Linked DNA regions of Homo sapiens: regions 2, 3, 4, 5, 6 and 7 are each linked to region 1. Evidence: fine-mapped expression QTL. A gene starts in region 1. Each other region holds a variant in brackets. All regions are shown on one strand. Distances are between the middles of the regions.

What was found. PIP is the estimated chance that this variant, and not a neighbour inherited with it, causes the effect.
Region 2: its variant is fine-mapped to the expression of ARHGAP15 in aorta (GTEx, PIP 0.98).
Region 3: its variant is fine-mapped to the expression of ARHGAP15 in whole blood (INTERVAL, PIP 0.94).
Region 4: its variant is fine-mapped to the expression of ARHGAP15 in whole blood (INTERVAL, PIP above 0.99).
Region 5: its variant is fine-mapped to the expression of ARHGAP15 in whole blood (INTERVAL, PIP 0.97).
Region 6: its variant is fine-mapped to the expression of ARHGAP15 in whole blood (INTERVAL, PIP above 0.99).
Region 7: its variant is fine-mapped to the expression of ARHGAP15 in whole blood (GTEx, PIP above 0.99). The same link has a PIP of 0.9 or more in lymphoblastoid cells.

What each region holds. Positions count from the first base shown.
Region 1 is chr2:143,127,358-143,131,949 of GRCh38, reverse strand. It overlaps ARHGAP15 (Rho GTPase activating protein 15), which reads right to left and starts at 2,531. Exons shown (of 14, transcript NM_018460.4): 1 at 2,484-2,531.
Region 2 is chr2:143,439,899-143,444,490 of GRCh38, reverse strand. All of the region lies in intron 8 of ARHGAP15 (Rho GTPase activating protein 15), which reads right to left. Among named protein-coding and RNA genes, the nearest start is that of ARHGAP15, 310 kb to the right of the region's middle. The variant C/T (reference allele first, on the strand shown) is at 2,017.
Region 3 is chr2:143,213,038-143,217,629 of GRCh38, reverse strand. It overlaps ARHGAP15 (Rho GTPase activating protein 15), which reads right to left. Exons shown (of 14, transcript NM_018460.4): 4 at 1,185-1,246. Among named protein-coding and RNA genes, the nearest start is that of ARHGAP15, 86 kb to the right of the region's middle. The variant A/T (reference allele first, on the strand shown) is at 2,645.
Region 4 is chr2:143,434,690-143,439,281 of GRCh38, reverse strand. ARHGAP15 (Rho GTPase activating protein 15) reads right to left here. Exons shown (of 14, transcript NM_018460.4): 7 at 3,583-3,681; 8 at 2,240-2,369. Among named protein-coding and RNA genes, the nearest start is that of ARHGAP15, 310 kb to the right of the region's middle. The variant G/A (reference allele first, on the strand shown) is at 2,286.
Region 5 is chr2:143,009,924-143,014,515 of GRCh38, reverse strand. The region is part of intron 10 of KYNU (kynureninase); the gene reads right to left. Among named protein-coding and RNA genes, the nearest start is that of ARHGAP15, 120 kb to the left of the region's middle. The variant G/A (reference allele first, on the strand shown) is at 2,695.
Region 6 is chr2:143,402,331-143,406,922 of GRCh38, reverse strand. All of the region lies in intron 6 of ARHGAP15 (Rho GTPase activating protein 15), which reads right to left. Among named protein-coding and RNA genes, the nearest start is that of ARHGAP15, 280 kb to the right of the region's middle. The variant T/C (reference allele first, on the strand shown) is at 2,387.
Region 7 is chr2:143,568,529-143,573,120 of GRCh38, reverse strand. All of the region lies in intron 11 of ARHGAP15 (Rho GTPase activating protein 15), which reads right to left. Among named protein-coding and RNA genes, the nearest start is that of ARHGAP15-AS1, 210 kb to the left of the region's middle. The variant G/A (reference allele first, on the strand shown) is at 2,156.

The DNA.
Region 1 (4,592 bases):
TGGATACATCACTGGGATGGATCCTTCATATGAGACACTTCCAGAAATTCTGTGTTTAAATGCCACAGGCAGGACCAATGGTTAACAAAACACTCTCCCTCTAAAGTCTTCCCCCAACCATTTACCATGGCATCAGTCTCCTCACTTGAGATCCAACATTTAGCTAATCCTTTGGGCCCTGTCTGCTGAGGAAACATATTAAAATTCCACTGGGGGGAGAAAGGGAGGCCTGGCTAGGAAGTCAAAGCTCTGTAGCCTTCTCCTATAAGCGTGGATTATTTTTATTAGATTCCCTAAGTGCTGGAAAATGGGATGAGTACATTTTAAAAGTTCAGTTGAATGGAAGGAGCCAGTGAATGGAAGGGTCTATCTTTCTAGGTACCAAGTCTATGGGACTCTAAATTAGGAGCAGAGCAGGCCGCTCCAGAAGAGAATAATAAAAAGGAGCAACAGGAGGAATATCAAGGAAAGAGTTTCTCCTTTCTGAATCTTACTGAATGCTGGCCCTAAGTGGAAAAGCACGACATTCTTTGAGCAAATTAGCTTTAATATGACTTTCCAAATAAAATCTTCCGTATTATTTTCATTTCATCAAAACTTGTTTCTGACTCATCCACTTAAAACATATAAAGTAATAGAATTCTATAGTAACTTATTTGCAATTAACTGTCTTAAAATTTGGTTTGTACCTTACTGCTCTTTACAAACAATTCTGAAGGTATTTTAATTTACCTATCATCTTTACTCATTGATCTTTCTAAATTCATATCAAGCTCTCTTCAATTCATTCTTAATTTTACACATATTCCATAAAATATGTGTATTTTAATTTAACAGTTTCTGCAAGAAACACTCATTTTTACAGTGAATTTCTTTTTTAAAAGCATTAAACAATTTAAAAAATTTTCATGGACTTTTCCTCAATGCCAGATGTTTATCTGCATATTCATTCTTGCTAAGGTGTAAGTATTGCATGTGTTTATTCATTTGATATTCTTTTATAATAAAATGAAAGAAAGTAATAACATATCAACCAAAATTATCAGAATTATACAGCTTCTATAGATGCAGAGGTTCAGAACCACGATATTGAAGACAGATTTAAATAATGCTTTCCATTGTGAGGAAATGCAACAAATTGAAAATCTAATCACAATATCAAAGCAAATATATATTACCAGGGTCTTCTTACATGCTAACAATAAAAAATGTATTGAACACCAAGTCCTAATCTCTATTTTTCTGTGATCATTTTAATAGTCAACAAGTAGCTAGCTTCAGTATTGACAATTGAAGAGGTCTTAAAATGGAGTGTACTACTATGCCTAATAATTTCCTACTAAATTGACCATGTCAAAAAACATTTATGTGTGTCTTTCAATAGAAGACAATAAAAGAAAAGAAAATTGTTGCCACTTATCAACCCTGTAACCATTTTTTAATAACACAAAAAATAGGTGTTGTGGGGGCCATCACTTCTCCCATCCAGCAGCACAATAAAAATAATATTAGGGAAGAATGGATCATATCTTGGGCTGTTATTAAAATTCTTTCAAAAATCTACAGTCAGATTTATTTTAGGTATTTGTCTCTGAGATTAGCAATATTTTGATGTTTTCTGCACATATGTTACAGCACACAAAGACATTCTGTAAAAGCAAGAAGTCAATATAAAAGAAAATTACATGTCAGTTTAGGACTAACAAATCCTTTTCATTTCTAAGGTTTATTATTTTGGAATATTTCAAAGAAGGAAAATTATATAATTACATAAATAACAAAAGTATACCTCTAATTTGCCTCTCCTCTCAGAGTAACCTTCAATGAAATCAGCTGTGACTTCTTTTTTAAATATAAAAGTTTGCTTATGAATTAGAAACTTACACTCATTTCACCCTATATCTTAAATGAAATTTAGAAAAAAAATTTCAAGTGTCATGATAGACAGTATTCCTTTACATTTTAAAAGCTCCTTGCTTTTTAATTAGCTACATAGTAACCTTTTTAAGGGTTTTTAGTGCTAACATTAATACAATGCTTTAAAGTGAGTATCTTTCACACTGAAATTCAAGCTATTTCTCATTGTTATACCCTTTTCTCTTTCCTTATCTGGATGTTGAACAATACATATTTTTATAAAACAGTTGGTTAAAGGTGCAAAGTCTCACATTATTTCTAGTAGTTATTTTTAAATGCACTTCAAACTAAAACTTTATAACTTATTCTGTCTTTAACATTTTAGTACAAAATCTTAGCAAATCATCTTATTATTATAACATTTTAGTAAAAGACATTGGAATTTGACAGCTGCAAATATGAAAAGAACATTCTTTTCTACATCAAAGGAAACCAGCCAATGTTTTAATCACAGGTAAAAGCGTCATATTTTGTAGAAATGTTTATATGTTCACACCAAAATGTAGGAAACTCTGCCGAACATGTTCAAGTTTAAATTTCATGTACAATATAAAGTTAAAACTTACCTTTTCTCGGCAATGACCTGTTATTGAAACTGCCATCAACTCCTAACTGTTAATGACTCTTTCAACAAAAACGGAAAACAGTAAAGTCACATGTCGTAAGAGTAGGCCTGTGTTGGATGCTGCTTAATTTCAGTACTGGGGGAAGAAAAAGGCGGGGGGTGGGGTGAGCACAAAACTTTTAAATAAAACCACTTCCTGGGTAGAGACAGTTAACCACACACATCACATCATTACTCAATTTGAAGAAATTGCCTTGTATAGTCAACAATATTGTTATTTTTCAATGTTATTATCAATTGTCAAACAAGACACATGTATAGAGATTTTATCAATTTTAACTTAAGGGAGGAAAATGTGTGATTAAAAATTCATCAGTGGGAGGAGCAGACTGCTAAGCACTGAAGAAACTTCCTCTTTCTCTGCCTTCTAGCAAGGGCTGAAAAATGAAGCGTCTACTCTGCTGGCTACGCTTGAGATGCTCCCATGCTATCAGGACACTCTGCATATTGACTTTGGAAGCAAGGAAGCCACCTCCAATTCACAGAGCTGGTGCCTCTGCCTCATTCATGAAAGGACCCACCAAAACCTGATCCAGTTAACAGGTTCATCAGGCCTTGGGAGGGTTGCATTAGAACTTCAGAAAACACAGCCCAGAGCCACGCCGCCATCTGAGCATCTGGGGAAAAGGCAGGTGTTCATCATGCTCGTCGAACACACCCTGTGGCATTTGCTGTGACTGTGGCTCTCATACGGATGTGTCCACTCTGGCAATTTCCTAAGCAGTTCTGAAACCTGCTGAAGAGCTTTTGCTCTAGCTGAGTGATTCTTTGTGTGGTCTGACTTAAAAAGAAAAAAAATATATATTATAATAAAGGATCCAAACAATATCATTTTGGCATGCTGCTGAATGCCCTCTTGTGTCAAACTTCAACAAACCCAAGACATATTTGTAAGGGGTCTCAGAAATAACTCTAGGATGTGCATCTTTATTGAGCCATGGAGTTCAAGAATAAGCTCCTGGATTTTCAGGCTTGGCTGGTTTTGTGAGATTTGCAGCTTAATCATAAAAGGAAGAGAGGAAAAGCTTTCCTTCCAAATATATGAGAGAGTTAAATCACAATCTCTTGTCATACAAACCAATTAGACTAGAAATCTGTGTAATAGAGCTCAGTGGTATAGAATGTTTGGCATACTAAAAGTCAATCTTTAAAAATAGATTTGGTGGATATGGCCCAAGTTAGGGATGGCATGTCCCTATCAGTTAACTGAATTTCTCTGGGATCTTTTTCTAAAAATCACATTTCAGATTGACCCTAGAATTCACTGTCAGTTCTCATTTCAGGAAGGACCTTTTTAAGTGTTTAGAGTCCTGAAGATTTGTACTGAATGCTTCTCCTTAACACCGAAGAGAAAATGGAAAGTTCATAATATTAAAAGTGAGGAAAGCAGAATTCCGGGCTTAATTCTGACACTGCTATTCACTTAACCTTGGCCAAGTTACTTAAGTTCTCTGAAATTTAGTTCATTTATCCATGTAATGAAACATCCGCATAAAAAAATCCATCTTGGGGAACACGATAAGTAAATAGATGTATATATTTTGTATATCATAAGGAATTGTAGATATATAAATTAGCATGAGCTGGGAAATGTTGATAACTCCTAAGAAGCATCAGAGAACTTCAGTACATTCTGCTTGATTTAAGCCTTTGTAAATCTGAGTTAGACTCAGAAGTCTAGGACAAGGAAAATAAATTAGGCCTTTCCTTGTTTTTGTTTGCTTGTTTTTACGGAGTCTCGCTCTGTTGCCAGACTGGAGTGCAGTGGCGCGATCTCAGCTCACTGCAAACTCTGCCTCCCGGGTTCAAGGGATTCTCCTGCCTCAGCTTCCCGAATTGCTGAGATTACAGGCATGCACCACCATGCCCAGCTAATTTATGTATTTTTAGTAGAGACGAGGTTTCACCATGTTGGCCAGGATGGTCTCTATCTCTTGACCTCATGAGCCGCCCGCCTCGGCCTCCCAAAGTGCTGGGATTACAGGCGTGAGCCACCACTCCCGGCCATGCCTTTCCTTTTAAATAGATACTAACATCAGGCATCTGACTA
Region 2 (4,592 bases), 310 kb before region 1:
ACATGGATTCACTGTACAAACACCTTAAATGCTTAAATGTCAGCTTTAGCAAAGATTCTTTAAATCTGCTGTGACAACAATGAATGATGATTATATGCCTAACTTTATAAGAAAACATTAATATACGCCCATTTTAAAGTCATGGAATAAACAAAAGGACACTTTCTGAGGATACCAAAGATCTTTTTTTTTCTTTTGTTTACAATCACAGTAGTGTATTAATGCCAATAAAATATTGCTTGAGAGTTAGAGCAAAGAGCCCTCTGGATTTGCCCTATTATTGAAAGCAAGATGCCATTTGACCTAATGAAATCAGAAATTGATTAAATGCAGTTCATCTAAGGGGAAATATGCTCATGGTGTTATTGCCAGGGTCAGAAGGAAGATAGGGTGATCTAGTGCTTGAGCACTGAGAGGGTTAGGTGGACTTTCAGAGTAGCTGATGCTATGAGATACACGACAATGGACATCCACAGGTCAGAGGGCGAGATCAGCCCCTTAGATGGGAAAGAAGAGATTAATCAGGACATTCTTTGCTCAGCTCATAATGAAGTCCTCTTATCAAATGATTCATTGAAAACTGAATGTTTTGAAGAAAGTGCAATCTACGGGTCCCAGAAAAAGTAGGTACTGCTGCTTGGGAACATATGTCAGAACAATGGCTAGAGTCACACAGGGCCATAGTGAAGCCTGGGACCTTCATGCATAATACTATTCTGATAAATTAATGTGGATGCTTGACTATCAAATGTGTCTAATTTTTACTCTTTTCCTCTCATGATGTTTACATCTTGCAGCTTTAACAACATAAATGTCATTTATAATTTTTCAATTTTTTTCTTTACCAACTATTTTGAAATAAGTAACTCTCAACCTGTGAAAAACAACTGAAAAGACAAGTGACACTCAACTATTCTTTAGATATTGTCTGTCTTATAAGTATAGTAATATGAAGTGATTTGTTTCCACATTTTAGCTCAATAGTTTATTTTTCTCAAGAGGGTTTTGAATAAAACTGGTACCAGAGTGGCGCTAGTTATTTTGGGGAAAAAAAAAAAAGGGTGAGTGACCCTCTCACCCAAATCAGAAAACTTTGTCCTCTTGATAATATAATAACCCATGATATTCTACAAAAATGTCACGACTTTTTTGTTTTTCCAGGAAAGAGCTCTTCCATTTCTTCAGAACTAGATATGGTTTATCTGTGCAATTTTAATACTGTTTTCATTTCCTTGGCAGATGGTTTGTTCATCTTATTATTTTCATACATTGGCAGGATTAGACTGTTTTACACAAAATTCTTAATAAGAAAAAACTTTAAAATATGTATTTATATGAGCCTCCAGAACAGGCTTCACAGTATGTGTTTTAACAATTGATAATTACATATTTATCCAAGAAACTCGTGTGACTTTTTAATTTTGGATAATAATAAATATCTTAAAAGTTTTCTTAATTACATAGTTCCCAGAAAGGTCTCAATGGTCACAGGAAAAAAATATATTGGTTTTGGAGGAAAATAGGAAAACAATGAGTTATCAATGTTTCATGTAAAGAGGTCTTAATGTAACTTATATTCAGAAAATTTGATCTTTCTTTGAAAGGTTCAGGTCATAATCAGAAAATATGTATATTCTTTTATTGAATTAGGCACATGGACATACCTACTTTTGTGTGGGTATGTGCGTTTACTTCAATTTTTAACTGGAGAACTTTTCAAACATACAAAAAAAAATGAAACAATAGGATCATGATCACTTGCCTATGCACCACCTAGATTCATCAAATGTTTATATTTGGGACAATTCCAGACTTAATCTGTCATTACACATACTTTTTACAAAGAACATCTGTCTTGCTAAGGACTCACTTCCCATTAATGCTACAAAAGCTGCCTACCCAGTCCTCAATTCTCTCCTTTTTCTATTATTTCTTCCGGCTCGGAGGCTTTAAATTCCCTCCCTGCCACTACTGGGGACTTTCAGGGCTCACCAGAATCCTAGCAAAAGCAAAAGC[C/T]ATTCTGAGTCTCCTAATCGCTTTGGTGGAGACGGTACAGAAGTGGGGATCTAGACCGGAAACTAGATCGAAAGCAATGCTACTGGGAAGTCTTAGCTCTCAGGGCCAGAGGTGCAGCAAATTCAGAATGAGTTGTTCCCTAGAAACAACATTGTAAGTGACTGCAGAAAGTTCAAGTGTGCTTTTGTGGCTTGGTACATGGTTTCCTTGTGAAAACATACCAGGTCTAAGCAACCAATTTACAATTGGATTTTGAGAACATAGCCTACTTATAGTTGTAGAAGACCAGTATTATAATTATTTAGATTAGTACAAAAAATTAATGTTTTCTCTATCAAACTTGTTTTCATCACTTGGCATGGTCATGATACTTTGCAGGCAAATTTTTTAAACAAAGACAAGTTAAAAGTCCGTAGCATTTTAATTTTTATTGTGTAACTCTCTCAATTCAAGTTTTTTCTTTCTGTTGTCTTATTGCACACATCATTAAGGGGATATGGAACTGGGAAATGCACATTTAAATACATATACCCTAATTATTAGAAACATATTACATATACCCTTATTGCACATGTCATTAAGAGAACGTAGATTTGGGAAATCCACATATGCATTTAGGATTTCACCCAGAACACATTTGTTTTTTATGATAACTTAATCAAGAGACAGCTAAAGGAAAACCCATTTCCTTTTAGCTCTCTTACCTTTTGACTTTAGTCTTCTAACTCATGTTCATTTCAGGGTGCTTATTTCCAATACTAAAGTGTCAGTTTTATTTTCAAGTTATCCAAGGTCTCCACACTCATGGATTTTACAGTTTAGCAATTGATAGGTATGAGATATATTACTACTAAAGCATAACCTACATACAAAAGTTATTTTTTAAAAATTGAAAGCACAGATGAGTGAAATCAAGAATTTTAGTTGTATACCTTTAGTTGTATTTCTTCATAAAAAAGAATTAATGTGTGTATGAATGAATAAACTAGAACTTTGTGTAAAGGAATAGTGAGATGGCTAATGCTGAATCCTTCCCATCAACTTGAATTTCTGAATGGCATGCTTTTCTGGGTTTAGGAGAATCAAGAGTGTTTCTTGGCTCCTTTCTACTGTTTCCTGGTGTGCTGCTCCCAAGAATGCCCTACCTGCCCCTTTTACATGGGAGTTGCCAGGGGAAAGACCAGCTGCTCGTACTTAGATTTTTTGCAGCTATGACTCCCATATCCAATTCTGGTACCCTTTTTCTACCTTTCATACACTCAGGGAGTAGGATGGCAAGCTTATATGCCCTGCTCCAGTCTTTCATCAACCACCACCAGGCTCAAGCCCTGTCTCAGTGCTATCTGCTTGGGGACATGGAGGATAATAATAAGAGCTCCTACTTACTGAGTGCCTGCTATGAGCTAAGTATTTACATGTCTAATTTCAAATTCTCACACGATCCTTTAAGGACAGTATTAGACCCATTTTTATAGATGTGGAAAGTAAAGCTCAGAAAAGTTAAGAAACCTCGCCAAGGTTATCTGATGCAAGATTTATTATATTTGGGCCTTCCCCCTCTTTGCTGTCAGTGGAAGACAATTCTCTTTCCTCAGAGAAATATGTTCACATCTTCTTTGATTGACTCTCCACTTTCCATAACAGCCCTCCCTGGAGAGCTGCTCTCCTACTCTCATCCCAGGCTGGTGTCCTGAGTTTCCCACAGTGATTTGGCCCTTGCATTAAATTTTCTGGCTTCTTGTCTGTTAGACTCAACTGATATCTTAAAATATCTGATTCGTTCTTAATAGTGTTGGCAGGTTAGAATCATATTTTTTAAAAGAAAAGTATATGTAAACATAACTTTCTGAATTCACTCATTGAGAGAACATATTTTTCCCATGTTATATAGACAAACTGGACAACGAAATCACCACCTGTTAGCTGCTAATGATGTTCACATGCCTTTTAAAAAAGTAATTCTGGCTTTATCTGTCTACAATCTTGGCGGCAAAACTCATGGGAACATCAAGGGCACAGGAAGCCAAAGGCAGAAAACCGACAATAAAGTTTGTGCTTAGACTACTAATAAGGAAGAGGATACTGTTGAGTCTCTGATTCTATATAATTATTTAATCTCCAAAGGGTGACATAAAAGCGAATGCAAGTTTTAAGAAACCTAAGTTTGGGTGTTCAAATCTAGGACTGAGATCAGAGGGGTTTCACACAGGGTATTTCCTACTTGAAAAAATATATTTTACAAAGCATCAAATATAAAACATGTCAATCACTATTTCAAATGCATGGTCTAATTTGATATTGTGTGGGTGGGTCAATCATTATGCCTTTCAAATGAAAATGAATACATACATATTGAATGAACTTAATTCAAAGTAATAGATGGATATTAACTGTGTCCTACATTGCAAAAAACATACTGGCCCTAAAAAAAAAGGCTTACAACTATACATACTCACCAAGATACAGAAAAGAATCATTTTCTAAAATTAGAGCTAGTGTTAAAGATTAAATTATTATTTTAATAGTGAAATCAAAATTGAAAGAAAACACCCAGTTTTAATTATTTTTGCCAATAA
Region 3 (4,592 bases), 86 kb before region 1:
CTTCAGAACCCAATTCTCTAAGCCCAATTCACCACTGGGGAAGGGACTAGCCACATCTCTTAAAGCAACCTTGCATTTGATCTTGTCTCCTGTGCATCTCTCTCCTGAACTCTTCAAGGGAAGGTGGCTGCAGGGCCACTCCAGAAAAACAGTCCAGGCAAAGATTTAAGGCCTTGTTCACTATCCCAGAATAAGACACAATATGGAGAGAAAATAGAGCTTGTTATTTACAACTGAAATAGCTATTTTAAGTAGTGAAATTGTGGATGATTTCTCCACCCCCCTCCAAATTTTACTTTGTTTAAATAAATATATTAATTCATTATAACCATCAAACAAAAGCAGACTTTATTCTCTGGTGTTGACCCAGAGTGTCATTCTAGTAATGAATTGTATTATACAACTAACATGTGTCCCATTGTGTAGCTAATTAGTACATTTATCCTATTAATTTTAATTGTTAGTAATACATTTAAGAGTAAATGCCTTGTCTCTCAACTTGAGCATTTTCTACAAATTTGGTAACTTGCATATCACCCAGCACAAAGCTAAATATGTAACAGAACCAATACGAGAAATAGCAAAAATTCTAAAATGGAGGTGATTATTTCTAAACATACGGTATATACCACACAATTATCATCTTTCTTTACCGTCCTATCAACCTTACTTTTTTTCTTCAAGATTTTTGTTGTTATTGTTCTCTGAAGGTTCTTATTCCCTTTTCAAATTTCTCTCACCTCTGAATATGATGTTACTTTTATTTTATCAATTTCTATTTTGAGCTACAAAAGTGGTTCAAATCTTCCATCCTTCAAGAAATTATTCTCACAAGGTATTGTATAGAGACTTTTCTGTATTGCAGATGAATGCATTCATTCTCTAATCTTTCAATCACAGAAATCACAATCCATTGTCTTATTTATTTTCAGTGTTTTATGAGTTCAAGTCCAAGGAGGACAAAAAGCATCTCATTTATGTGTTCTGTTCGACAATATAGAATGTAGTGCCTTTCTTTAAAAACTGTAGTTCCATTAAAAATAATGTTGATCATAGCAGTAGCAGAGGAGACTGTTCTAGTCTGGTACCATAGGGACTTGCATCCCAAACAATAACAGTGGCACAAGTTTAGCATATGAAGAACCAGCATAGTTATATAAAAGTGAATTAAAGAATTTTATTACCTTAGTTTCTTTCCTCCATCTGCAATTTTAGCTTTTTGCAGATAACCTTCTTTTTCAACCATCTGCAAGAAGAATGCATATGTTAAAACCGTGACAAACTACTATGCATTGTTGATTTGAATAAACCTATGCTTTTCAAGAGTCATTGCAGTGACGGAAGTTTTCAGTCATAGAACTTTATTAATAATGCATATATAGCTTATGGGAAGTGCCTGCAAAATCATAGTCATTACAAGCTGTTAAATATCTAAAAGACAGACTATGAAGAGGAATGTGAATGATTTGTTAGATAGTGATACACCTTTATTGACTTTTCTTTCTGGGCGTTGAAGTCACTTGTTTAAAAAATTGATTGCAAATGGTAAAAGAAAGACAAATTGAATGCCTTCCTTTATTTTACCAAGTATCCTTAGAAAAGTTCTTCTTTTCAAGCCTCCCCATGTACCTTCCGAAGCCGGGATAAAGGAAGACTTCAATGGGACCAGGTAACTGAGCTAGTTGAATCATGGAAGGGCATTTAAAATAGCAACATTTCATATATTTTGGTCAATTGCCAAGATACCCTGTAGTAGCAGTATCTCATTATCTTCTTCCATGATGTAGGATTGCTTCCTTTTCCTATTTGCATATACTGTATTGGCTTTCATTTCTAATAGAGCTGCAAGTTTCTTAAAGGAAATTCAACAAGTCATTATAACTCCGCAGAAGTGTTTGCGGAGGTTTTGGCAAAATAAATGCACAATGCAAATTGTGATGGGTTGACTCCCTGCAAAGTCTGTACTAGGTGTTTTAATTTCTTAGCATCCTATTTCTACCCTCCTGTGTCTGCCTCACATGCCCCATCCCAAGTCGTTAGCCTTCATCTTTCACTCTTAGTGAATTGCCCACACCCTTCTCCCTGAGCTGCCTAGTATCAGAGGACCACACTCCCTCAGTGCCATCCCATGTTATCCCCCTAGCTGAAATAGTCCACCATGACCATGTCTTCATCTCACAAAAGTCTTAAGTATATTTAATCTACTTCAAAATTAAATTAGTAAAACCCAGTGAGGTGGCAAGTGTCTATAATCACAGCTGTGTGGGAGGTTGGGGTGGGAGAATCTGTTGGTCCTAGGAGTTTGACACCAGCCTGGGCAGAATAGCAAGAACCCCATCTCAAAAAATAAGAAGAAAACCAAATTTTAATGTGCACGTCTTTTTATTAGAGGGTCTTTCCATGATTTCTCTGCCATCTCTTTTAGGTGCACCATCCTGAATCTCCATTTTCAGTTTGCCATTGTCACTGTGACAGCACATATCAGATCATGTTGTAAATGTCATTTTATTTATCTGTGCCTGCAGGCAAATAATGTGCTATGAGTCCATCAAAGGCAAAAAACTGTACCTTTCACACCTGGATTCCTAGCTTCTGGAATATTTTGGTAGTGCCAATAGTCAAAATAATAAAACTGTTTGAACAA[A/T]TAAGTAAATGAATGGCTATTTAAATGTTTATTTAAATATTTATAGTAAACTGGGCAAGCCAAGAAATTTATCTTCAATACTACAAGTGAAAGGAAGAGATATTTAGAGGTAAAGGAGTTGTTCCAAATAACTAAAATCTCACTGGTTAAATGTCTGCTCTGATATAGGTGAGAGTTTTTCTGCCTTGTTTTATTCCTAATACATAGCACGGGACTTAGTTTTAAAATGCATTTGATGAATACATTTTTGACTAAATAAATAATGATAGAGATAATAATAATGATGACTTATGAAAATGATAGCAAAGTGTTTTTTACTTATCTCCATATCCAGAAAGTTTCTTTTACTTCACCATGTTCTCCACAACTCTACAGCATCTAAGGAAGATTTCTTGGATAATTTTGAGAACCATGGTATTCACTGGTGCCTTTTTGTTTTGTATTTGGATACATCTATTCATTTGCTTTTTCCACATTTTATTCTATGTATACTGTCCCTTTTTCTTGGTGCCAGGAATTTTATTTTTCTACCTCGTAAAACCCATATAATAAATTTAGTGTTTAACTCTGTGTATCACTGGTATCCACAAATGTTTGGAAGAAAGATGTTTTCAATAGCAATTACCACCACAAAGGAGGTTCCTTTCTTTAGGAATGTATACTGAGAAATTTTGTTGTGTAACCGTAGAAAAAATTTATTGTTTTATTTAAGTTTTCTTCTGATTAACAGTTACCCAAAACCTGGATTTATCTACCAAAAAAACTACAAAAACCTATCAACCCATCATAAAAATTGATGCATGCGTTCTCTGCTAAAAATATAGCCCCAATTGTTTTTTCCAAAAATTCACAAAAGATCCCTCGGTAGACATTTGCTACCCACAAAGATAAATTATTGATGAAAATTTTTCTAAAAGAGATAGGAAATGTGAAAGGAAAAAGCTAATACTCTTATAGGGAGAAATCAACATAAACAGGTTTAAGGTGTACATCATAGAATTCTCTTTCTTTGAATACATAAGTAACATTTCCCCAGACACTGCAGGACTTTTCCCAGAATACTTGAGATTGATGCCAAGGGCTGGATTTCTCAAGTTAAGACTCAATAAATGTGACATCATTGTCATCAGTGGCTGAGCCAGTTCCATGGTCTTGGATCAATGCAATAGACTTTTCAGGAATGATCATACAGAGGTCCCAGGAAAAATGAGGACGGACTGAATAGCAAGTTAGTTATCTTCTCTTATATCATTTTCCAAAGTCAGGCTGCCTTCCAGGTCATTAGAAGAAGCTAATAACGCTTCTGCTATGTTCTATTACCTACTACACTTGCTACCACCATGCATATTTGTTAAATGTTTACATGCAGATTTCTACACGTAGTATATCTATGTCCTACCACTGTGCACACATTCTCACTTCTGAGATCAGGTGTTTATTTTCCTTCATCTTCTTTATTTTATTTTATTTTTGAGACGGAGTTTTGCTTTTGTTGCGTGGGCTGGAGTGCAATGGCGCAATCTCGGCTCACCGCAATCTCTGCTTCCTGGGTTAAAGTGATTCTCCTGCCTCAGCCTCCCGAGTAGCTGGGATTACAGGCATGTGCCACCATGACCAGCTAATTTTGTATTTTTAATAGAGACAGTGTTTCTCCATGTTGGTCAGGCTGGTCTTGAACTCTCGACCTCAGGTGATCCACCCACCTCGGCCTCCCAAAGTGCTGGGATTACAGGCATGAGCCACCGCACCCGGCCCTTTCATTGTCTTTTTAATACTTGATGTACACTTATTCATTCTTTTCAACACATTTTTAATTAATAACACTTCTTTCCTCTAAATGCCAGCTTCTCTGCTTACAACAGAACTGGAAAGATTAATAGGACAATTGTAATCCTCTTGAGGCTTAAACTCCTGGGAGTTCATATTCAAGATATTCCTGCTCCTTTTC
Region 4 (4,592 bases), 310 kb before region 1:
CCGGCTAATTTTTGTATTTTTAGTAGAGACAGGGTTTCACCATGTTGGCCAGGATGGTCTTGAACTCCTGACCTCAGGTGATCCACCCGCCTTGGCCTCCCAAAGTGCTGGGATTACAGGCATGAGCCACTACTCCTGGCCTCCCTTGTTTTTAAGTAGGATTGAGTTTAAGCTCAAAGTAGAAAAATAATTGTCTTTTCCAATTAAAAATAGATTCTAAAGAGAAGTAGTGAGTGTTCTATCTAAGATTTTTTTTTCAGCAGCATCTTAATACTTTTAAAGTGACTGTTACTTAATAGAGAATTCATTATCCTCAATGTTTCTCAAATACATTTTTGCAAACCTTTATTTTCTCCATAGCTCAGGTTTTAGAAACATCTTAAGGTCTCTGAACCAGCAATTATATCTAAGATTCCAGACCTACTAGTCATTGCATCACATATTCTTTTATATGTACTACAGAATGTCTATATGATTAACACTAAATATATACTCCCAACTGAATCCCAATTCTGAAATCTTACCTTATGTCTCAAACCATATGAAGTAAAAGAAGACAATGATCAGGCATGAAAGGAAAACATTCTTTAAATGAAATACCTCTAAACTGTACCATTATGGAAAAGTCTTTTGAAATGGCATTAACTCTCCACAAATAAACCATGCATTTTCTAGACATTAACACTGATAATCTTAAACTCCAACTTAGCACAACTGGCTAAGTAAATGTGTCTAGCAGTTGTTGAAAATTATGGCATGGGATTTTGCATAAAGACTTAATTTCAAAAGGGTGCTTCTACTCTTAAATTCTCATGCAATTTCTAGATTTGTAGACTTCAGTAATTCAACTTTGGCAAATATGTTATCACATATAAATAGCTTCTCTCTTCCCTATCATATGTGTATGAGTCTTTGTGTGCATGTATGTGTATATACATATATTTCTTAATGCACACATATATGTACACGTACAAATAATCATCTAGCATACATACATACGTGTGTATGTGTATGTATATATGTATATATGTACACATATATTCCATTAGCAGCTCTTCTCAACTTACTGAGTTCTCTTTAAATTCTAAAGTTTAGGATGTCAGTATACTGATATTTTGTCAGAGGGAAATAGCAGGAAAAAAATGATGATTTGCAAGATTGGGGTCAGCCAGGTAGAAGACTCCCCCAAAATACTATAATTTTTAAGACTTTGGGAAATAGGTTTTCTCTGGTTCCAAAGATGTCTACCTTTTCTGAGACAGAGTCTTGCTTTGTTGCCAACCAGGCTGGAATGCTGTGGTATGATTTCAGCTCACTGCAACCTCTGACTCTCTGGTTCAAGCAATTCTCCTGCCTCAACCTCCTGAGTAGCTGGGATTACAGGCACGTGCCACCATGCCCAGCTTATTTTTGTAGTTTTAGTAGAGATGGAGTTTGGCCATGTTGACCAGGATGATCTCGAGCTCCTGACCTCGTGATCCACCCACCTCAGCCTCCCAAAGTGCTGGGATTACAGGCGTGAGCTACCTCGCCCAGCCAGATGTCTACCTTTTCTTTCAGGAGGTTGAGACTCAAACCAACTCAGTGAGATATGTGTTGCATATTTTAATAACCCCTTTTCATTGAGGAAGAAGCAGTCTGGGGAATGGTTAAGAAAGATACTCAAGATCACTGTGTAAGTAGTGAGACCATTCTTTTTACTCTAAATTTAATTCTTAGAATATTAGAACTAGGTGTGACCTTGGAGAACATCTAATTCACATCCCATATTTTCTATCAGCCTCTCTGGAAAGCACGTTTCTAAGTGTTTCTGGTGGTCTGAAGGTGTGGAAAGTGGCATAGCCTGTTGACTTAAGTTAGACCACACTGGTGGTCACTCATACCCTTTAATGTATGCAAATAAAATAGTCAGGATACCAGGGTTGGAGATGCTTGACATTTCCCACTCTCAAAATCAATCACTGATCTGAACACCATGGCTATTACTCAGAGATTCAGAGGTTTGCTGTAAGCAGAGACCATGACCTTGGAACAATTATTTTCTCAAAAGGCATTACCAACAATGATGTGAGCAAAGTGCCCAGACTGCCCTCCAGTGCACAAATCCCTGGCCAGGAAATGGCTACGAATCTTCCATGAGTATGATGAGTTTGGCTTAAATCTCATTTCAATGCATTTATATTTCATAAGCACTGCATTTAGACAAACTTAAAATGAGCAAGTCAAAGAAAATACTCACTTAAAGATTTTCTGTGCTCTGGTTTCTGTTCTTTTATATCACTGTC[G/A]TAGTGACTTAGCAATTCAGTGCTAGAGGATCTTTGGATTTTGAATAATTCCAGGTTTCTTGATGGACAACTTGAATCCTTTGGCTGGAAACAGCAAATAATTAGACTGAATAATTTTACTAGAAAGAAAGGATTCACCATAGAATTTTGTGTTCAATTTTGCTGTTTATGGGGAAATTTGAAGTAAGGTAATTATTTGAGGATAGGTCCTCTATGCTAAGCTCAATACTCTAATAATAGTTTATATATGTATATGATGGTACTTACTAAATGCTAAGCACTATTCATGCATTAGTTCAATTAATCATTACAACAATTCTATAGAGTAGGTGGTATTATTATTATCCTTATTTTCCTCATTAAGAAAATGAGGCCAAAATAGGCAAGTAATTTGCCTAAGGCCACACAGGTAACAAATGATAGAACTAGAATTCAAACTCTAGCAGTCTGGTTCCAGAGTCCATCCTCAATGGCAACAAACTGTGTGTATGTATGTATGTGCACTCACACACATTCACACACACACCCCTTTAAGGGGAATATACTAATAACAGGAAAAAGTAAATTTGTTATTTTACTTTTTAAAGTGTTAATCCCAAAATGGTATAATGAAAGCTTGCAATTAAGTATCAAGAAAATCACACAGAAAATCTTTTACTATTGTGTTGTATTCCGTATTAAGAATATTTCTTCCCAAAATTTTGCAAATATTAGTGTCATAAAATTAAATGTTTGTTCTAGAGACTCAGCATGGAATGAGTGGTTTTAAATAAGTTCATTCTTAGAAAACATACTCTGAATGTATGTTTTAGGATAATTTCATGAAGTTCTAGATATGTAATTTTCATAAGAAGAACAATCTAGCTTAGCTGGAAGAATAATAAAAATCAGTACAAAGGGTTATTATTTATTTATTGGTATTATAACAGTGAGTCTTAAATATGTTATTTATTTACAGGAGTATGTAGTATGGACTGCATAAACTGAAAATGAAAAAAAAATCAGTAGTTATTAAGTGCTTGTGTGCTTTTTACAGCCTCCAGTAAATGAATGTCTATGTTATTTCAGAAAAAAAGAAAGAATGCACTATATTTTTGAAAGAGAGAAATTAAACGACAGTTCTACAAATCCTGTCTGCTGAAAAGGTTTTTAGTAGATTCTATTTAAACTAAAAGAACTTAATCCCTCTCAGTCCATAGGATCTATTTAAATGAGTGTGTGTGTTATATGCCTGAGCAATAAGATTTAAATGACTACATTTTAATTAATAAAGGTAACAGCCAAAACAAATACATACCAATCTGTCAATTGCATTTTTGATAGCGTGGAACCAATCCAATATGATGAAGTCAATATCTGACTGTAGAAGGAACTCATTTCCTGATACTGTTGTGATCTGCAAAAAAAAAAAAAAGAAAAAGAAATAGACAGGTAAAGAAACTATGTAAGATAGATCTCTTACATGTAAAAATCCTTTTTTAAAAAACACAGTTTAATAAAATGAAATATTTTCTTGTATTCCAGTAATTGTCTTTCTGGGAACTGGGAGCATTTTGAACCGCTCTCTATAAACTGTTTTTCACGTCATAACAAATACATTATTGTTTTAATAATAGAACGATTAAGTCAGAGTAGGGCTAGAGCTGAATTACTCCAACTTAAGGAGAAACAAGCCAGGAAGTTCAGAGAACTGCAGACAGTACACACTTAAGTCAGAACCCGCAGAAAAATGCACCCGGGTGTGTCAGAATTCATTCTGCACGTTTGCCTCTTTCCTGTCTGTCTTTTTCAAATCTAATAGTATCTCTATATTTGATTTCCTTTTATGGAGAGCTCTAAAACAGTTTATTTACCAAAAACACTAATTGCAGACTTCCAAAAGTTCATTGAAATGAATAACATTTGACTATTTCTACTTTCTTATCAGAGATCTATAGGAAAGTAATAAAAAAACCAATTTCCCCACAAAAGGAGTATATTAAAATAAAAGTTCATTTACATATTTGAACCTCTCTGGGAGAGTATTTATCAAATGAACATTCAGGTTCCTGACTCTCAGACTGCTAAGTAGTTGGCAATATTTAGCGTGTAACTGTCCATTTTTCATTACAGTGAATCTTTTTCTCCCCAGACTTGTGAGAAAAGGATACGACCCTACAGAAACAGAGCAATACTCTTAGTTTCACACATAACGGGCAACTTAGAGAAAAAATTGATTAGAGTGGGTGTGGACATGCTTTTTGTATTTGGCCATCAATCTGAACTGTGAAGATTTTCCCTTTGTATTATTGACTTTTCCTTGCAACT
Region 5 (4,592 bases), 120 kb after region 1:
TTTGCAGTAGACATGTTTGATCTCAAATCATGTGTTACATATAGCCCAGCATAAAATTTATGCCAGAAACAGCACATATAAAAGAAAACTGAAGAAACAATGGATCTAACCCATTAATTAAACCAAATTTGCTCCTGCTGGGGAAGGAGAAGCCTCAGAAAAGGATGAGATTCATACCTGATTCAGGTTCCCAATACTTAGCCAGGTTGTACTCCATACCACTAGATAAAATCCAAGGGATGAGGCTGGGAGGGTTGAGAGGTCAGTGGGAACTCCACATATGTTTGAGAAGATCTGATGATGGAAATGGCCTGAGCCATGTTCCCTCAGCCCTAAGGGGCAGTCCAAAGGTTTGTAAAGAATTTCTTCATGCCCCAAATTGGTGCCATAATCTTTGTGTAGGAATGTTAGGAGAATGGACCTGTGTGTGATAGCACCTCCATTTAAAACCCAGGTTCATACTATATCCTCTAAAGACGCAAGAGACTATTTTGAAATTCCTGCTCCCCCAGGGATAGGTATAGAAGTGACTGACAGACCCCAAGTCTCCAATGGAGCTTTGGGATGGTTGGGATAAAAGGCATGAGGCCATTTCAGTTTCATACACATCTTGGAGAATGTAATGGTAATGAGAGCAGTTGACCAAAAGGGTACAAGCACATCTCAATGTACTCCAGGAGATGGCTGTGGGTCCGAAGCCTCTCCCTTACCTATGCCTGAGTGTTCTGTATATCATCTACCTTTGCAATGTCATTCTGTGGAGGAAAGGAAAAGAATGCTGAACCAACAGAACTTAAACTCCAAATTTACTGAGAAAAACAACAAAAGTCACTAAGCTTACCTAGAAGTTACAAGACCAAATTTCCTTCAAGAAACAGATGTGGGTTCAGGATAGAATTAAATTCAGATAGACAAAAACAAAGAAAATAAAATTATTTGCTCATTTAAATTCAAGACCTGATAACATTCATATATGCAACTTTTCTTTAAAACTATCAAATTTCTAGAAATTAAAAATAGAGCTACCATAAGACCTAGCAATTCCTTCTCTGGACATATACCCAAAGGAAATGAAATCAGCACCTTGTAAAGATATCTGCACTCCTTTGTTCACTGCAGCATATTCAAAAAATTGTGAAGATTTGGGATCAACCTAAGTGTCCATCAACAGATGAGTGGAAAAGAAAATATGATGGACACACACACACACACACACAGAGAAAGAGACAGAGAAACAGAGAGAGACAGGGAGAGAGAGAGAGAAATATTATTTAGCCCTAAAAAATAATAAGGTCTTGCCATTTACCACAACATGGATGAGCCTGGAGTACCTTATGCTAAGTAAAATAAGCCAGAGCCAGGTGTGGTGGTACACACTTGTAGTCCCAGCTACGTGGGAGGCTGAGGTGGGAGGATCACTTGAGCCTGGGAGTTTAAGGCTGCAGTGTGCTGTGATAGCACCTATGAATAGCCATCACACTCCAGCCTGGACAACATAGTGAGACTTTGTCTCTAAAAAATTAATAAGAAAAAAAGAAAGAAAAAAGCCAGACATGGAAAAATTGCATGATCTCACTTATGTATGAAATCTAAAAAAAATTCAAATATACAGAGATAGAGAACAAAAGAGTGGTTACCAAAGACAGGTGTGAGGGAAGAAAATGCAGACAGGTAGGTCAGAGGACACAAAGTAGCAGATATGCAGGATGAACAAGTCCAGAACTCCAATGTACAGCATGAGGACTATGGGTAGTACAATTGTATTATATTTGGGATTCAAGCTAAGTGAGTAGATTTTCCCTGTTCTTGCTAGAAAAAAAATGGGTAACTGCATGAAGGTGGATATCTTAATCTGCTTCACTACAGCGACCTTTTACTGCTTCTATGTATCCCATACATCATGTTATAGACCTTAAATATACACAGTAAAAAATAAAACAAAAATATGAAAAATATTATGGGAAATGACACATGGGCCTTTGTACTCCATAGTCCCTTTTTCTTTCTTTCTTTTTTTTTTTTTTTGTTTTTTGGAGATGGAGTCATGCTATGTCATCCAGGCTGGAGTGCAGTGGCATGATCTTGGCTCACTGCAACCTCCATTTCCTGGGTTCAAGCCATTCTCCTGCCTCAGCCTCCCGAGTAGCTGGGATTACAGGCATGCACCACTAGGCCCAGCTAACTTTTTGTATTTTTAGTAGAGATGGAGCTATGTCATACTGGCCAGGCTGCTCTCGAACTCCTGACCTCAGGTGATCCACCCGCCTCGGCCTCCCAAAGTGCTGGGATTACAGGCGTGAGTCATCGTGCCTGGTCCAGAGCCCCTTCTGAGATAGCTGCTTTCTTCTGTTCTCCTTTGTCGCAGGAAACATTTTGTATTTTGGAGAACCTCCAACTTGGGGACACCCTCCGCTTTGGGGACAACCAGTGTATTTTCTTTTTTTTTTTTTTTATTATACTTTAAGTTTTAGGGTATATGTGCACATTGTGCAGGTTAGTTACATATGTATACATGTGCCATGCTGGTGCGCTGCACCCACTAACTCGTCATCTAGCATTAGGTATATCTCCCAGTGCTATCCCTCCCCACTCCCCCCACCCCACCACAGTCCCCAGAGTGTGATATTCCCCTTCCTGTGTCCATGTGATCTCATTGTTCAATTCCCACCTATGAGTGAGAATATGCGGTGTTTG[G/A]TTTTTTGTTCTTGTGATAGTTTACTGAGAATGATGATTTCCAATTTCATCCATGTCCCTACAAAGGACATGAACTCATCATTTTTTATGGCTGCATAGTATTCCATGGTGTATATGTGCCACATTTTCTTAATCCAGTCTATCATTGTTGGACATTTGGGTTGGTTCCAAGTCTTTGCTATTGTGAATAATGCCGCAATAAACATACGTGTGCATGTGTCTTTATAGCAGCATGATTTATAGTCATTTGGGTATATACCCAGTAATGGGATGGCTGGGTCAAATGGTATTTCTAGTTCTAGATCCCTGAGGAATCGCCACACTGACTTCCACAATGGATGAACTAGTTTACAGTCCCACCAACAGTGTAAAAGTGTTCCTGTTTCTCCACATCCTCTCCAGCACCTGTTGTTTCCTGACTTTTTAATGATCGCCATTCTAACTGGTGTGAGATGGTATCTCATTGTGGTTTTGATTTGCATTTCTCTGATGGCCAGTGATGATGAGCATTTTTTCATGTGTTTTTTGGCTGCATAAATGTCTTCTTTTGAGAAGTGTCTGTTCATGTCCTTCACCCACTTTTTGATGGGGTTGTTTGTTTTTTTCTTGTAAATTTGTTTGAGTTCATTGTAGATTCTGGATGTTAGCCCTTTGTCAGATGAGTAGGTTGCAAAAATTGTCTCCCATTTTGTAGGTTGCCTGTTCACTCTGATGGTAGTTTCTTTGGCTGTGCAGAAGCTCTTTAGTTTAATTAGATCCCATTTGTCAATTTTGGCTTTGGTTGCCATTGCTTTTGGTGTTTTGCACATGAAGTCCTTGCCCATGCCTATGTCCTGAATGGCCATGCCTAGGTTTTCTTCTAGGGTTTTTATGGTTTTAGGTCTAACGTTTAAATCTTTAATCCATCTTGAATTGATTTTTGTATAAGGTGTAAGGAAGGGATCCAGTTTCAGCTTCCTACATATGGCTAGCCAGTTTTCCCAGCACCATTTATTAAATAGGGAATCCTTTCCCCATTGCTTGTTTTTCTCAGGTTTGTCAAAGATCAGATAGTTGTAGGTATGCGGCATTATTTATGAGGGCTCTGTTCTGTTCCATTGATCTATATCTCTGTTTTGGTACCAGTACCATGCTGTTTTGGTTACTGTAGGCTTGTAGTATAGTTTGAAGTCAGGTAGTGTGATGCCTCCAGCTTTGTTCTTTTGGCTTAGGATTGACTTGGTGATGCAGGCTCTTTTTTGGTTCCATATGAACTTTAAAGTAGTTTTTTCCAATTCTGTGAAGAAAGTCATTAGTAGCTTGATGGGGATGGCATTGAATCTGTAAATTACCTTGGGCAGTATGGCCATTTTCACGATATTGATTCTTCCTACCCATGAGCATGGAATGTTCTTCCATTTGTTTGTATCCTCTTTTATTTCCTTGAGCAGTGGTTTGTAGTTCTCCTTGAAGAGGTCCTTCACATCCCTTGTAAGTTGGATTCCTAGGTATTTTATTCTCTTTGAAGCAATTGTGAATGGGAGTTCACTCATGATTTGGCTCTCTGTTTGTCTGTTGTTGGTGTATAAGAATGCTTGTGATTTTTGTACATTGATTTTGTATCCTGAGACTTTGCTGAAGTTGCTTATCAGCTTAAGGAGATTTTGGGCTGAGACAATGGGGTTTTCTAGATATAGAATCATGTCATCTGCAAACAGGGACAATTTGACTTCCTCTTTTCCTAATTGGGTACCCTTTATTTCCTTCTCTTGCCTAACTGCCCTGGCCAGAACTTCCAACACTAAGTTGAATAGGAGTGGTGAGAGAGGGCATCCCTGTCTTGTGCCAGTTTTCAAAGGGAATGCTTCCAGTTTTTGCCCATTCAGTATGATATTGGCTGTGGGTTTGTCATAGATAGC
Region 6 (4,592 bases), 270 kb before region 1:
TTCATCCCCTTTCCTTTTCCTTTAGCTGAATGGAGAGGACTCTCAGAAACTAATAGAAGATGGAACCATAAGATGGGAGAAACCTGAGTCCCTAAATGACCATGGTGTTCATTGCCTTACAGAGAACACACTCAATGAACTATGATATGATCAAGAAATAAACTTTGTGCTAAGACACTGAGAATATGAAATTCATGTATTATGATGCCTAGTGCTACCATAGAAGTAGTCTATCTTGGTAAAATGCATTTTATGTGAGAAAATAAAATAATGCCTGATTAAATAAAGTATATAAAGCAAAAATGGTCAGAAATACAAGGATAAATTTGAACATATATTGACAAATAAATGGAAAAAGTGACAAACTTAAATTGACAGATTGACAAAGTAGGAACATGGGGATTTAAAGAACACAATGATGTAAACACAATTGTCTACACATATCATAAAGAAGAATATTTTAAAATATTAACTGTAGCTTAAGACACAAAGACAGTATCAATGATCCACCAAAGCCACACCTCTTAACTATGATGTCCTACAATTAGAAATTAAAAGCAAATAGTATAGCTGAAAAGAATCCATTCTCTTGGAAGTCATAGCATATAAACAAACACTCTTCTAAAGAATATTTTGGTAAAAAAGACTTTAAAACTAGAATTATAAACTCTTAAAATTGAACAACATTAGCTTACAAAATATGGGCATGTGGTGAAAATTCTACGATCAAAATACAAACTAGTAAAAAATTATTAACTGAGGTACATCCATTTATGAAAGCCAATAGATATGAGAAAACAACAAAAGACATGTAAGATGCTCATCATTGGTACAATTGAAAAAGAAAATTGAAATAAAATGAAACAGAAAAATATTCAAAGATCTGACAGATGAAAACTCCCCTGAAATAGAGAAAAACCTGAATTTACAAGTAGATAAGATGTAAGTGTTCTAGGAAAAAATGCCACAGAATTAAAATCCTAAAATATGATCTTGCAGCATTACCAGACTTTATGGACAAAGAAAAAAGTCCTGTGGACCTCAAGGCAGAAATATGAAGTCACTTATTAGAGCAAAACATGCTGACTTCAGACTTCTTTATGTCAATATTCTTATGCAAGAAACGATGGAGAAAGTCTAGGGTCCTGGTAGAAATGAAGCATTACCCAAGCACTTTGTATGTAGTCAAGTGTATGTTCACACACAAAGGCACCCAAAAAGATGGCCTTGGACAATGTGAGTCTCGTAATACATTTGATTCCAACCAATCAATAATCAAAACAGTTAAAAACATCTTCAAGTGAGAAAGTTGTTATATAAAATGAGGGACACTCCTTAAGCTAAAACTTACTGAGAATTAGAGTGACAGAAGAAAATATATAGTCAACTTGACAAAAAATATAACTAATAAATCTATATGTAGTTTATGACAATGTGAAAAGGGGAGCACAAATTTTTTATGTTTTATAAAGGGAGTAAATTTTACTGAAGTTGATGAAACAAGTACTAAAATGTACAAGGATAACCGTAAGAATAATGAATTCTCATAAGAGGGGAAATCAAAAAAATAAAAAACACAAAATGATAAGCAAAATTTGATTAAGGCCACGATACAAAACAAATAAAGCAAAAGCAAAAGCAGAAAAAAAAAACACCTGGCTTATAAGCATTTATTTATTTGTTTTGCTATAGGAAGGTATACATTATAACATCAAACTTACTTAATATACTTCATAAAATGCTTTCTCCTATCACACATTAAATTGATATAGAATTTGATAAAAAGATTTATTTGCATTACAAATTATTTAGCAAGGGTTAACTCTGTCATTGTAAAGTTCACCTTGATTTTTCACCTATTATTTTCATACTTTGGAATCACTGCAAAGAGAGAAAAATCTAACCTACAGATTGTTTTCATGTAGAAGTTGTAAATTTTGATAATATGGGTTTCATCTCAGGCAGGCTTTGAGAAACATCATACTGCGTATGCCAATATCATCTGTCTCTGTTTTAATGTGTAAGTTCTCACCACTACCTAAGTAATAATAATTTTCATTAATTTTAAGAGCATGATCACGAGTCCCGTTATTTACTTTTTCTTATTTTATAAACTCAATGCAATTCACCAATTTTCCTTAATGCTGTTGCCTGATGAGGCACTCATCTTCCTTTGGTTGCTCTATGCCAGAGCTTCTCAGAACCATCCCTAGAGCTTGTGTCAGGCACCTGGTAGGAATTCATAAGTGTTTGCTGCTGAATGACTAAATCAAACATGACTTCATAGTTTACATCTTATTTAAGCTGAACAAAGACTGTTTAAATCAAATATTAATCAACTAATACTAACCTAAAGGAAACCCACACATGCAGTATCAGATACTTA[T/C]TTTAAATTAGAAGTACCCATGCTTTAGGTGATAAACATGCTCCTGAAAAAATATAAATTTTTGTATTAGATTAAATGATACATACAACATTTTCAGGCTATAATTTGATCCCATCTGTTTCTGTCAATTTATTCATTTATATTCTATACATATCTTAGGGTCTCTATCAAATTTTACTTCTTCAATACAAATTTCTTCCATAGAATGTTTTGCCTTCCGGACTTTCATAATTCTATCATTGCCACTATCATTGTCTTTACCAATTCTTGTTCTTGAACTCTATCATTCTTGTTTTCTCCATCTCCTTTGCCTGCAGTATATGATCACTTATGTTTCCCTTGTCCTTCAAGGTTCAGAATCATCAGTATATTCTAACCCCTACTGATGCCAAAATTTGCCACCATGTTGTCTTTGGACTCCCTTCCTTTTAACAACTGAATATTTAATAACTTTAATATCATAGCTACATCATGTTTCTCAACAACTCCAAAGCCAGTAAATATTAACATTATGGGGATTTTCCATTTAAACTAGAGAAATTGCAATCTACTCTCACTTGAATATGTCTTGAGTAATGTGGCTCCCCTTCCTTTTCTTTAAAAAAAAAAAATTACATCCTGGTACCAAGTGTGCAGCTCCCGAGAGTCTTGCATGGATAGTTGTCTCTGGTGAAAATTTAAGTGCTGTTTATGTTAGCTTCATATACTCATAATAGAAACTCAACAATCAAAGGGATTGAGTGATTTTATAGAACGATTATTTTACAAAATTTAAATAATTGTATTTAAAATTACACACACACAGAAAAATACACGTATACACATGCACTCTTCCCTTGACTGCTGAAACTCCAGTCTTTTTCTGGTCTGTTTTCATATCTCACGCATATATTTCTTCCATTGCTGGGCATGCCTTCTCCATTATTATGTATTATGCAATTTTTAAAAACAGTTTAAGAAATTGGTTGTGTTTTTGTTTTGGGTTGTATTTTTTTTTCTAATTTGATCCCTAGTAATACATATGTATTTTTGAAAATAGTAACTATTATGTGCCTCTTTCTAACCATCACAATACTTAATCTATCTCTGAGTTAGTGAAAAATAAGTTAAATTGAGTTGATGGAGTTTGAAAATTAGAAGAAATATATTAAGTCCCATGAAAGTGAGGCATGTGAACTGGAAGTGGTCCACAGTAAATAAATCCTCAGAGCTTTAAGGAAGACAGGCATTGGCAAGTGGAGTGTTGAAAGAAAATAATATACCCAGGTCTCCAAATTAATACAAGACTAGAAATCAAACGGTCTTATTGGTTTCAAGGCTAAAAAGAAAAAAAATAAAAAATAATTACAATTTTGGTGGAAAAATATGGTTTGAAAATGATATAAACTAGATTTACTTTAGAATATATAATATTTCAGCCAACTGAATTTAAAATTAACTTATGGATTGATATTCCTTTGTTTCCACATAGCTATACTTGTATAGCTTAGCATTTTACTAATTACTTTTAAAGGTTTTACTTGAATCCTTTTAAATCTTTGAGAAACTAGGTTTTAATATTTGAAATTAACAAAACCAGATGACTTAAGAATATATTCTTCTATAAGAAAAATATAGGTTGTCCTCTAGAAATGTCCTTAGCCAGGTAGACAGCTAACAGGTGAAAAAAAATTTTCATCGAAGTCCCAAAGTGACCTTCAATTAAGAAAAACAATCGACTGATGTTTCTCTACTCTATTAGATGCCAGGAATCTCTGTGCAGTGTTTCTGGGGTTTTTCCTTCAATCAGCCCAACATGAGGCTCTTTCTCAAGCTGTGATTTTGTAAATCTTTTTTTAGTACCTATTGGGACATCCTGTGAATTGTGGTCTCTTCATATCTGCATCATGGGGAAACGCACACAGAGCAGAAAGGATTGGACAGTTTCACATCTCAAAATAGTCCCCACCCACCCCCCCTTCCAATTTAGAAAATAAAATTAGCTGTGAGTTTTTATCCTGGGGAACCACATATTTTGGAAACATCAGAGTTTTCAAGTTCCCAAGCAGGTTAATTCTTTTGTTTTCTCTGTCACTAATAAGCCATTTCCTTTTGCGAACTCAGAAGAAGCTAAATCTTCCCTAGTACCTTTGCTGTTGTCTATTTTTCCAACTTTAGTTTGATCTGTAATAAAACAACAGAATATCTGTGCCTCTCATTCTCTCTT
Region 7 (4,592 bases), 440 kb before region 1:
GTTACAGACTTTTGAGTCATGAAGCTGCACTGTAGTTAGCATTTCCATTTCTCATCCCAGTAAAATGAAAAGTACCTGAATATTGTTTCTTCTATAAACACACAAGATGGAATAAAGAAACAAATATAAAGGTATCTAGAGGTATTTTTTTAATTTATGAATTTCCATTTTTGTAATCTAGAGATTTGAATTTATCTAGCTAGTATCTTTTACCACTTTTAAAGTGCTTTGCATGGTTCTCAATATGGCTCTTTGTGTTTTGGTTGTATGTTTTATCTTTTAAAATTTTTATTTAGGAGGGATTCCTACATAACTAGATTAGCAGTGAGAGTAGTGGTCTCAGAAATCACGCGTGGATTTAGGATTCAGGATGGCTATATTAATTCAGAAGTAAAAATACACATATGACAGAGACAAGAGTTTCATGAGTCAGAAAAAGAAAATTCCAGGTAAGCCTGGCTTTATAGCTGTCTAAGTGGTGTGATTTGAGGTGAGTCAACACTACTGTTGAAAATACCTTATGTAGAGACTGGAAATCCTCACTATTTACCTGATTATATGACGTCTCTTACCTTATATTCCCAGGAGTAGCAGGAAGCATGACCTACTGTGCTCAGATGAACAAATGATCACCTTAGAAAGTCTGAGTGGACTCTTGAGAGATGGGGATGATAACGCTGAGAACAGGGCAAGGGAAAGGGAGAGGGAGAGAGGAATGGGGAAGATGGCTGTGTGCATAGAGTATGACTATGGAGAAAGTGGGCTCAGTAAGACTCAGTGTCTTACAGGTGTCAGGGGTGAGGACAGGGGTGAAATGAAGGCTCCAAAGGCACACACAGGTGGGTGATGATTTTAAGCCAGGTAGATCTTTGTGAGGTAGAAGTGTAATGCTGAGTATTTTGGCACCCAGAAATAAGAGGATCTGGCAGGCACAGCTTTGCTGAAAGCCTACAATGCAGATGGCACATGATGGGCATAGGGAGGAATCCAGAGGAAACTGAAAAATAGCTCAGTCTCCAGCATCTAACAGTCATGAAAGGGAGAGAAGTGGCATATGAAATAGACTAAAACCAGTACTGAAACACAGGGACAACATGCTATGGGAACACAGTGGAAGAAGCAGCTAATTCCTGTTGAGATTTATGCCAAGAATCATGAGATCTGTGTCAAGGAGGTGAGCTCATCCATCAGCAAAACCACTGATGATGTGCATCTTGCTCTGAAAGACTGTTCTGCTGGGACCTATCAAATAATAATACGCATACATACTCCAGCCCCCAGGACTGATGGGATATTGAATTCCAACATCCTAAGCAGATAATGGTGAGTGAACCCCTTATGGCTGCCAGACATGAAAGTAATAGACTAACAAGAAGAGGGAGTGGGGTACTTGCTCAGGAAAAATGTAGCCAGAGAGTGAGGAGACCACAAAAAGACAAACAATCTGGAGAAGTAGAAAGGATGAGGAGATGGTGAAACAGCAAGAAATGCAGATGCCACCAATACCTGCTGCTATTTAAAGGGAATTATTCCATGGGCTTTTTAGAATCCCATGGATGTTAGGAGACTGTGGCTGGGATTTCATGTCACCTTCTCTCTAAATTACCAGGAAACACATAATGCCTTCTCCAAATCTCAGCTGAATGAAGAAATGCAACTCTTAGCAACTCATTCAAATTCATAGAGACTTTAGTTCATCTATAAAGTGGGTAGCTTTCTTACAAAGATTTAGTGTAATAGCATTTCAAGTGCTTTAGAGCAGTGGTCCCCAGCCATTTTGGCACCAGGGACCAGTTTCGTGGAAGACAATTTTTTCACAGATTGTAAGGGGAAGAGTATGGTTTCAGGATGATTCAAGCACATTACATTTATTGTACACCTTATTTCTATTATTGTTACATGCTCACCATAATGTAGAATCAATGGGAACCTCAAGCTTTTTTTCCTGCAAATAAACAGTCCCATTTGGGGGTTATGGGAGACAGTGACAGATCATTAGGCATTAGATTCTCATAAGGAGCATGCAACCTAGATCCCTCCCATGTGCAGTTTGCAATAGGGTTTGTACTCCTATGAGAAATTAATGCCACTGCTAATCTGACAAGAGGTGGAGCTCAGGGGGTAATGCTCTCTCACCTGCCACTCACCTCCTACT[G/A]TGCTGCCAGGTTCCTAACAAGCCATGGACTGGTACTGGCCCCTGGCTGGGGGGCTGGAAACCCCTGCTTTAGAGAACTCAAGTACTGACATTCTCTTGGTTCTGTTGGTATGTTCTGTAAATTCTATTCTGTTAAAAAAAAGGATTGACCTGTTTGAAACAAGACATATCTTCTCTTTTCTTCAATATTTGTTTTCAAAAGAAATAATGTGTAAATTGCAGGAAATTGGGAAGGTATTTTGAAAAACGAAGACAATAAAAATCACCAATACCTAATGCTAACATTTTATGTATTTCTTGCTATTGTTTTTGGAACTGAGTTCAATAGTACACAGTGAAAAATTGTTCACTTTGAGACTGATCTCCAGCATGTGCCAAATTCCTCACCTTCTTTAATAAAAAAATGGTCCAACTCTGGATGGAATCAATCAATAAATTAAAATGTGTAGTGCTTCTATCAGCTGCAAAATATTCTTCTGGGTAAAGTAGGAGAGACAGGTTTAAAAGATATGAACTCTGCCCTTAAGAAATGTTTAGTGTGTTGAGTAGATAAGATATAAGCATGTGATTTTCACTAGTGATATATAACATTATACACAATATGAGGTTATTGTAAATTGAGTAGTTGAAGTTGTAAACATAGGATTTAAAATGAGGAGTGATTCTTGTGGTTTGGGGGGAGGTTCCAGGGAAAATTTGAGTGACATTTAAATAATCCAAGAAGAACTTGAGATAAGCCCTTTCTTTATAAAATATTCTTTCCTTTAAAAAATGTTATACTTCATTATATTACAATAGATTACTTCATTAGGATGGTTGTAAGGGACACATTTAGATATAACTTCCATATGGTGTAGCAATTTCCATTGTAACAGGTTCATTATCTCATGGGATTGACTCATCTTAAAAGAAAATATATTCTTGCTTTAAAGATAATAAAATTGACCTGGGGAGGTTAAATGACTTGGGCAAGACAACACAATTATTAAGAGGTGACATGAAAATTGACCTAGGCTTTCTAACTCCTGGGCCACTCTTCTCTCTACACTTTATTGCTTAAAGGAAATGGTTTAAAAGGCATATGGAAAATAAGACAAATAGAATATGAAGTATTCCCTCATACAAATCAGCCACCACTATTATAGCTTGACTGTGCTACTGTAACAACCTTCTAATTTGTCCCCTGTATGTACTCTTTCCCCCTACAATTCATTCTTCTCTTAGCCAGTGGAATAATTTAAAAACAAATAAATAAATAGGTTCAGCTAATTTTCTGCTTACTGCTGCCCTACACCCCACTGACATTCCACTGAGCTTAGAATAAAAGCCAAGCTTCTAATCTTGATTGGCAAGGCCTACCTGGCCTGGCTTTGCCCATCCCTCTGGCCTTCTGTGTGTCCTGATCTCACAGAAGCCCTCATTCCCCAGAACCAGTTTCCCTGCTTTGCACTCCCCCCACATCTCTCCATGCCTCCCTGCTTCCTATCAGGTCAAGTGTCTATTCAAATGTCTCCTCCTCAAAGAGACCTTCTCAGGTCATCTAATCAAGGGCCACCTCACCCGTCTCCATCTGTTCTTCTCTATTACATCACGATCTTGATTATAATTTCTGATATCATCTGAAATTATCTTGTGTATTTATTATGTATCTCTTGACACCAAAATGGATGATCCACCAGAGCCTGATTTTCCAGAAGAGATCCTGGTTCATAAAAGGTTTTCAAGAAATATTTTTGAATGAATAAATCCCCATTTGAAGTCTTCATTTAGGCCAATATTTTAGGCTTTTTTTTTGTTTAAATTATTATACTTTAAGTTCTAGGGTACATGTGCACAACGTGCAGGCTTGTTACATAAGTATACATGTGCCATGCTGGCTCACTGCACCCATCAACCTGTCATTTACATTAGGTATTTCTCCCAGTGCTATCCCTCCCCCTGCCCCCCATCCTATGACAGGCCCTGGTGTGTGATGTTCCCTACCCTGTGACCAAGTGTTCTCATTGTTCAATTCCCACCTATGAGTGAGAACATGTGGTGTTTCATTTTCTGTCCTTGTGATAGTTTGCTCAGAATGATAGTTTCCAGTTTCATCCATGTCCCTGCAAAGGACATGAATTCATCCTTTTTTATGGCTGCATAGTATTCCATGGTGTATATGTGCCACATTTTCTTAATCCAGTCTACTAATGATGGACATCTGGCTTGGTTCCAAGTCTTTGCTATTGTGAATAGTGCTGCAATAAACATATGTGTGCATGTGTCTTTATAGTAACATGATTTATAATTCTTTGGGTATATATCCAGTAATGGGATCACTGGGTCAAATGGTATTTCTAGTTCTAGATCCTTGAGGAATCGCCACACTGTCTTCCACAATGGCTGAACTAGTTTACACTACCACCAACAGTGTAAAAACGTTCCTATTTCTCCACAT